Linked DNA regions of Homo sapiens: all the other regions are linked to region 1. A link means that fine-mapping ties the variant in region 1 to the expression of a gene that starts in the linked region. Tissue or cell type: whole blood. Region 1 holds a variant in brackets; each other region holds the start of a gene. All regions are shown on one strand. Distances are from middle to middle.

Region 1 (2,756 bases):
TCATGGCTGCCAGTGAGCCCTCATCTGAAACAAACAAACAAATAAACTTGAGGATAGAAGAAAACTCTGGAAGTGATGAGGCTATAACCTTGCTTCCAGACAACAGCTTCTTAGTGAGTGACAGGGTGTTCTGGGGTGGGGATATATGGGGTGAGTAGGTGAGGACTCAGGTTCTGGGTGGAATGATTGGAAGACTGGTTTCAGCTGCTTACCATTCCTAGCAGCCTTGTGTTTGGAAGGTTGGAGGGCTCTTGGAACATCCTCTCCTAAGAGATGGCTGGAAAAGTCCAGAATTAATTTATCTTGGGGAAACAGGTAAGATAAAAACTTCTGGAATCGGCCGGGCGTGGTGGCTCACACCTGTAATCCCAGCACTTTGGGAGGCCGAGGTGGGCAGATCACGAGGTCAGAAGTTTGAGACAAGCCTGACCAACATGGTGAAACCCCGTCTCTACTAAAAATACAAAAATTAGCTGGGCATAGTGACGTGCGCCTCTGGTCCCAGCTACTCAGAGGCTGAGGCAGGAGAATCGCTTGAACCCGGGAGATGGAAGTTGCAGTGAGCCAAGATCGCACCACTGCACTCCAGCCCTGGGTGACAGAGCGAGACTCCATCTCAAACAAACAAACAAACAAAACTTCTGGGACCCAAAGTCCCCCAAAATCTCAGTGTTCTCCAGATGGCAGCAAGAAGAAGTAGCTCTCACAGGTTTGCCCAGAAGATGGTGCTGTAAGACAAGCCCCTCTTTCATCCTTAGCCTGGCCGGGATCAGTGACGGGACTATGAAAAGGCTTGCAGGAACCAGACCTAGAGGGCATCTCTACTCTCTATTGGGCAGGAGTTATCTCACAGTGCTGAGCATTGCAGTCCATTCCTAGATACTCCCTAGACCACAGAGGAGAACCTTGGGGGTTCCCACATCAGAGCTGTGAGCACCTCCATGGGAACACGAAGGTGAGAGACCCTGGGCACCTGGGACAGCAATTGTCCTGAGAAAACAGGGCCTCTGATCAAGAAACACTGTCAAGAAATACAGACCTGGCTGGGCATGGTGTCTCGCTCCTGTAATCCCAGCACTTTGGGAGGCCGAGGTGGGCAGATCACTTTAGGTCAGGAGTTCGAGACCAACATGGCCAACATGGTGAAACCCTGTTTCTACTAAAAATACAAAAATTAGCTGGGCATGGTGACACATGCCTGTAATCCCAGCTACTCGGGAGGGTGAGGCAGGAGAATTGCTTGAACCCAAGAGATGGAGGTTGCAGTGAGCCGAGACTGCGCCACTGCACTACAGCCTGGGTGATGGAGTGAGACTCTGTCTCAAACAAACAAACAGAAAACAAATACAGACCTTTTCCTCCAACTCTGGAGATTTGGACCCATTCCCCAAGGTAGCTGGGAGGTTGAGGAAGGGGTCTGAGGGGCTTGGGCACTGACTGAAGTTTATACTCTAAGGTAGAAAAAAAAAAGTGGATCTTTCTGGGAGAGCAAGCTAGAGGCCTTCAGATTAGGAAAGTGAAACTCAAAGGTTGACTTACCCAATGTCACACAGCTAACAAGGGACAGAACTGAGACAAGAAAGAGGGTTTCCTGGAACCCTCTTACCTCTT[CCTCTTT/T]CTGCCCTGTGTTTTCTGCAGATCATGAGAATATAACGTTTATAAATAGAATTCCCTTGACAAGGAGTGCCTTCCTGGGCAGTAAGAAAAAATAGCAGGGCTCTTGACTCAAAACCCCAATGCACATTTTTCTTTGCATGCTTTTTTTTTTTTTAACAGTCTCACTCTATCACCCAGGCTAGTGTACAGTGGCACAGTCTCTGCTCACTGCAACCTCCACCTCCCAGGTTCAAGTAATTCTCCTGCCTCAGCCTCTTGAGTAGCTGGGATTACAGGCACCTGCCACCATGCCTGGTTAATTTTTGTATTTTTAGTAGAGACGGGGTTTCACCATGTTGCCCAGGCTGGTCTCGAACTCCTGAGCTCAAGCAATCTGCCCACCTCGGCCTCCCAAAGTGCTGGGAGCCACCATGGCTGGCTCCAATAGCGTTTTCTAATTTTTATTTTATTTATTTATTTATTTATTTATTTATTTATTTATTTATTTATTGAGACAGAATCTTGCTCTGTCGCCCAGGCTGGAGTAAGTGGCGCCATCCTGACTCACTGCTGCATGTGCCTCCTGGGTTCAAGTGATTCTCGTGCTTCAACCTCCCAAGTAGCTGGGACTAGAGGCACACAACACCATGCCCAGCTAATTTTTGTATTTTTAGTAGAGACAGGGTTTCACCATATTGGCCAGGCTAGTCTCAAACTCCTGACCTCAAGTGATCCTCCCGCCTTGGCCTCCCAAAGTGCTGGGATTACCGACATAAGCCACCACGCCCAGCACGTCTGTTTTTTAAATAATGAAATTAATAAGTGAGTCCCATCAGCTGCACTTCTTTTCTGAGGATAATTTATATACAAGACACAGAAAAGCTTCTTGCACAATGTTCTTTTAATAGGATTTATGTAAACTCACATTTGTCAGGATCCGTAAAAGTATTCTATTTCTTTCACACATGTAATTTTTTTGTACCTCTATCTCAGTGAAGGAGGCAGGCGTTGTCATTCCCACTTGTGAGGTGATTGAGGATGCTCTCGGGTGCTGGGAGCAGAAGCAATGCGGCCTGAACCCAGGTATGGATTTCATTTTGAAGAAAGGTCTCCTTGTAGGGCACTATCCTGGACCCAGTGGGCCTGCCCTTCCTATTTAT
Region 2 (2,500 bases), 47 kb after region 1:
TTAAGGACAAGATTGGCATCAAATCCATGAATCCAATAAGCATTTTAAAATGCCAGGAGCTGTGTGATCAGATGAAGAGGCCTTCCCTGACTATGAACTGGGGAGGAAGTATGTAAGCCCCATACAGACAACCTGGAGATGGCCTGGACACTAAAAGGTTTTCATTTGCAACTGGGTCTTAGGTCCCTCTTCCTCCTAAAATCAAGGGGGAGGTGGAAGCTTTTTAAATGAGGTTTTTTTTTTTTTTCCTGGCATAATGCAAAAGGCATGGACAGTGGGTCAGACAGACTTAAGTTCCAATTCAGATGTGCCACTTAGTGGTTGACTGTTTTTTGTCTTCTTTTTGAGATGGAGTTTCGCTCTCGTTGCCCAGGCTGGAGTGCAATAGTGAGATCTCTGCTCACCGCAACCTCTGCCTCCGGGGTTCAAGCAATTCTCCCACCTCAGCCTCCCGAGTAGCTGGGATTACAGGCATGTGCTCCCATGCCCGGCTACTTTTTATTTTTATTTTTTTGTATTTTTAGTCATGGAGACATGGAGACAAGGTTTCTCCATGTTGGTCAGGCTGGTCTCGAACTCCTGACCTCAGGTGATTCGCCCACCTCGGCCTCCCAAAGTGCTGGGATTACAGGCATGAGCCACCGCGCCCGGCAGTGGTTGACTGTTTTTAAAGCGAGTCATTTATCCTGTCCCTGAATGATACGATAACATATGTTATTAAAGGAGAAAACGCAGGTCAAACAGACTGTACATATGGTTCGTTCCCGCTGCTATCAGGGAAGCAGGTCTGGCCACAGATGGGGCATAGAACGAGGCCAGTGGTCAGCATCTCGACTCAGGCTTTCAGGGGTCAGAGCTCCCGGCTATTGGACACAGGGGGCAACGCACAGGCCTCCCCCCGACAGCCAGCTGCGCGGTGGCGCCCCCTCCTACCGAGCAGCTTGCTGGTCTGGATGTCGATGGGCACGTGCTGATGGTCCTGGCGGGAAACACGGTGAGGAGGGGGGCGTGAGCGCGGAGAGAGGACGTACCACTCGCGCGCTCATTTCAACGTCCCAACCACCACCCTGCAGGGCCAGAACGGGGCCAGAGCGATGGGCTGGGTTGAGCCGCTTCCGGAGGGAGACCGGAGACACAGGTTAGGGGTCCGCGGCCAGTCCCCAGCACACCCAGCTCCTGTCCCCACACCTCCATCTTTCCTCCACTTCCGCTTCAGGCTGGAGACTGTGGCCCGCCCCGCCCTACCACCAATCCAGTGGCGTTGTGGCCGAGCCTCCGTTTAGACACAAACGGGCATCCTTCGGCCACGTCGCCGCCTTCCGTACAGCCAATCAGGGTTTACGCTCCACTCAGGCCTCAAGCCCCGCCCACCCCAGGCTCCGAATGGCTGAGCTCGGGAGGGGCGGGAGAATGGAGACAGCCAATTGGAGACGCGAGGCGGGCTCAGGGCAGGGGACGGGAGGGGGTGCGCTGCAGCGGCCGTGGGATTGCGACAGGCGGCGCTCGAGAGCCCAGCCTGGCAGCCGCTTCCCCTGGCGGGCACTGGGTCTTCTCCACGCAGATTGAGACGTCTGCTGGCGGGGTCCTAGCGCCGATCTGGGAGGCCGTTGCAAATACCTTCTTCCCTCCTTGCGTCGCTTTACCATCCAGAGCAGTGTGCAGGTCTCTTGTGGCACTTGTCATGCTTTGCCTCCTCATTCAGTTTCTCTAATAGACATGGTTGAGCACCTGCAACGTGTTGGGCGATTAGGGCAGGGAAGGGGAAGGAAGAGAGTCGGTGAGACGTCCCAAAGAGAACACCTACATTGAGTCTAAACGAAGAGCTGAAGATAGCTGGGTGATGTGGGAAGAGGAGTTTTAGGTGGAGGAGACTACACAGACAAAGCTTAGGTGGCCACAAACTGCAAGAGGGGTGCAAGCAACAACAGGCAGGCAGGACGGGCAACGTAATTTGTGAGGTCCAGTGCAAAATGGAAATGCACAGCTGCTTGTTACAAAATGATGAAGAATTTCAAGATGAAGTCGGCTCCGCGGGCAGGCCAACCTCTATACCGTAGATGGTTTGAGGCAGCGAGTGGCTAGAGGAGAGGCTGTAAGGGTGGAAAGGCCATATCAAAGGGAGACTTATTAAGGAACTTGGACTTCATCCCTTCAGACAGAGGAATCACAGAAGGGGTTTGAGGCAGGGAGGAACCTGTACAGATAGGCTGCTGGGATGATGGATGCATGGGAGATAAGACTGGGGACAAGGAGGCTGGAAGGAGGTTGTTATCGAGGGATTATAGCCTGAGCTGGGACACAAGATATGAGGAGGAAGGGGAAGGGCTGGATCTGAGGAATATTTAGGAGGAAAATGTATAGGACTTGGCAATTGATTGGCTGTTTGGGTGGAGGAGAGAGACACTAAGGATGACACCTAGGTGATTAGGTGGGAACCACCACCTGAGACAGGGATGCAGGATGCTGAGCAGGTGTTGGGGAGGAGGGGGTCTAGCTTTGA
Region 3 (2,500 bases), 77 kb after region 1:
CCTCCTCCCCGAGCTAGTCCCCTTCCCCCATATTCCACTTACTTTTTTGTCAAACAGTTTGTAAGCTGTTTGTCACTGTACCCACCTAAAGAGGGGCCCATGACCATGCCCACCTGGCACAAGGAGGTTTGGGTGACCCCCAAATCTCCTTGCCCCAGGGGGTGGCCCCAGAAGCCCTGAGGGGCTGTTTCCTCCTACTCCCCTCCCCCCAGTAGATGACTCCGAGGACCCCTCTTCCCCCGCCCTTGAGGGAGGCCCAGCACAGTCCTGACATCCATCACATGAAACCCCGATTCATTCATCACTAGCTGTGGGACTGAGCAAGTTATTTGACCTTGCTACCTGTCGAGTAGCAGGGTTCTAAGCACTTTACAAACATCTTAGACCATAACATCCCCGTGAGGCAGATACTATCACTTCCCAGATGAGGAAACTGAGGCCCAGATACATTAAACATTCCAACCCAGGCAGGCTCCAAAGTTCGAGCTCTTACCCATTACGAAAGGCTGCCTTTTGAACCCATCTTCATTTGCGTTTCCCCGGAACTCCTCCCCTGGTGGGATGTCTTTGAAGCCCCCTTTTCCCACGGGGGGTGATCCTCAAACCTCCTTGCCCCACCGGGTGGCCCCAGAAGCCCCGAGGGGCTCCTACTACTCCCCTCCCCGCTGTAGATGACTCCGGGGACCCCTTTTCCCCCGCCCCTGCAGGAGGCCTGGCCCTAGCGGCGGCACCTCTCGGTCCCCGCGGTAACTCTTGCGCATGGGTCCCAGGTCCATGGCAGCACTGCGACCACACAGGTGACTGAGGTAGCCTGGCCACTCGGCAGGTCGCCCGAACGTCGCCGTGACGCCCCGCAGCCAGCACGTCATGGGGGGCCGCCGGCCACGTGACCCGGCTGTGGCCCGGCACTGGGTTCCTTTGAGTTCGGAACCAATTTCTCACCCTGGACTTCTACCCCGGGGAAGGAAGGATTTGCCAGTCGCCCAACCAAGCTAACAGGTCCTAAGTCCTCGGAGCCAATGAGTTTCCAGGATCGGAGGAGGGAGACAGACACGGAGAGGTCATTGGTTGGAGCTTTTCGGTAACGAGGCCAATTAGAGCGAGAACAGAGGAACCCAGCGGCCAATGGGTAGCGCCTTTGGGGGCGGGAGCAGAGAGACAAGGAAATGCTGTCACCGCGGTTAACACGCACGTGGAGGTTGGTTAAAGGTATAGGAGGATCTCTTGCAGCTCAGGCGGGGCGGAGGATGTGTCCCGGGGGCTTGAGGGGAGTAGTCAGTATTAAGTGGCTGGCCCATAGTAGGTGCCTGTAGGTGAGCTTAGGGCAGGAAGTACCCCCTGGGAAGGGAGACTAGTGGAATGGGAAAAGAAAAATGGAAAATGGAATTAGGGGCCAGACTCTGAGGCAAGGTGATGGGGACACATAGAGAAAAGGGTAATCTGGTTGTGGGGAGAAATTAGGGCATGAGAGTGGGAGAGGTTGAAATGACTTGTGGACCATGCCCCGAGTGGGGAGGTGCAGTGGGGTGAGGAAGAGACGGTGAGGTGAGAAGGAAGATGGCTGAATGGGAAGGGGGAAGAAGGAAATTTGGGACCAAGGTATCCCAGACCAGAGTGGTTTTCCTCTTCTAGTTTTGGTTTTGTTTTGTTTTGTTTGAGACGGAGACTAGCTCTGTCGCTCAGGTTGGAGTGCAGTGGCGCGATCTCGGCTCACTGCAACCTCCACCTCCCGGGTTCAAGCAATTCTCTGCCTCAGCCTCCCGGGTAGCTGGGATTACAGGCGCCCGCCACCACGCCCGGCTAAGTTTTGTATTTTTAGTAGAGACGGTGTTTCACCATGTTGGCCAGGCTAGTCTCAAACTCCTGATCTCAAGTGATCTACCCGCCTTGGCCTCCCAAAGTGCCGGGATTATAGGCGTGAGCCACCGCGCCCGCCACCTCTTCTAGTTTTAAACCCCTTCCCTCCAGCCTCATTTATTTAAGCAAGGGTCAGAGCATTTTACTCCCTTTGCTCATGGTTTCCCCTGCCATGGTGCACTGGAGTTCATAGGAGCCAGTGTCCTGGTAGATAGCAAGGCTGCCAATGTCCCATTTCTCCAGGGTCTCCCCAATCTTTGTCAAGCTTCCCTTTTTCCACATTTTGCCCATGCTAGGTAGTAGGAGTCTAGCCCCTAGGTCAATGCAAGCAATTGCCAACTGAGAGTACACTGAGCAGGTGGCTGTGCATAGCCTTTCCAGGCTGTGGATGCAAGGCTGAAAAATGGGAAACCCACTCATGCCCAGTCCAATTCTGAGCTGGCTGGGGCGGCCTTGGGTCGAGACCTCTCTGTAGCCCTGCTTTCCACCAGCATCAGGAAGGGGAACTGCAAGAGCCATCTAGGCAGGCACCCAGGACTGTGCCAGGTAAGGGGAACTTCCTGGCCTGGCCAGGTGTCTGCATTACAGCTGAGCTTCATGAAGCCCTACATTAGATACCTGTCATCCTTTATGTGTACATAGC

The links. PIP is the estimated chance that this variant, and not a neighbour inherited with it, causes the effect.
Region 2: it holds the start of CDK5RAP3, and the variant in region 1 is fine-mapped to the expression of CDK5RAP3 in whole blood (TOPMed, PIP above 0.99).
Region 3: PNPO starts here. The variant in region 1 is fine-mapped to the expression of PNPO in whole blood (TOPMed, PIP above 0.99).

What each region holds. Positions count from the first base shown.
Region 1 is chr17:48,016,497-48,019,252 of GRCh38, reverse strand. No RefSeq gene overlaps it. Among named protein-coding and RNA genes, the nearest start is that of MIR10226, 15 kb to the left of the region's middle. RefSeq lists an enhancer at 1,450-1,549. The variant CCTCTTT/T (reference allele first, on the strand shown) is at 1,612.
Region 2 is chr17:47,969,841-47,972,340 of GRCh38, reverse strand. It overlaps CDK5RAP3 (CDK5 regulatory subunit associated protein 3), which reads right to left and starts at 1,228. Exons shown (of 14, transcript NM_176096.3): 1 at 1,189-1,228; 2 at 934-979. The coding sequence starts at 1,194. RefSeq lists an enhancer at 239-866 and a silencer at 1,288-1,577.
Region 3 is chr17:47,940,045-47,942,544 of GRCh38, reverse strand. It overlaps PNPO (pyridoxamine 5'-phosphate oxidase), which reads right to left and starts at 974. Exons shown (of 7, transcript NM_018129.4): 1 at 732-974. The coding sequence starts at 869. It overlaps SP2-AS1 (SP2 antisense RNA 1), which reads left to right and starts at 1,141. Exons shown (of 3, transcript NR_103857.1): 1 at 1,141-1,198. RefSeq lists an enhancer at 928-1,222.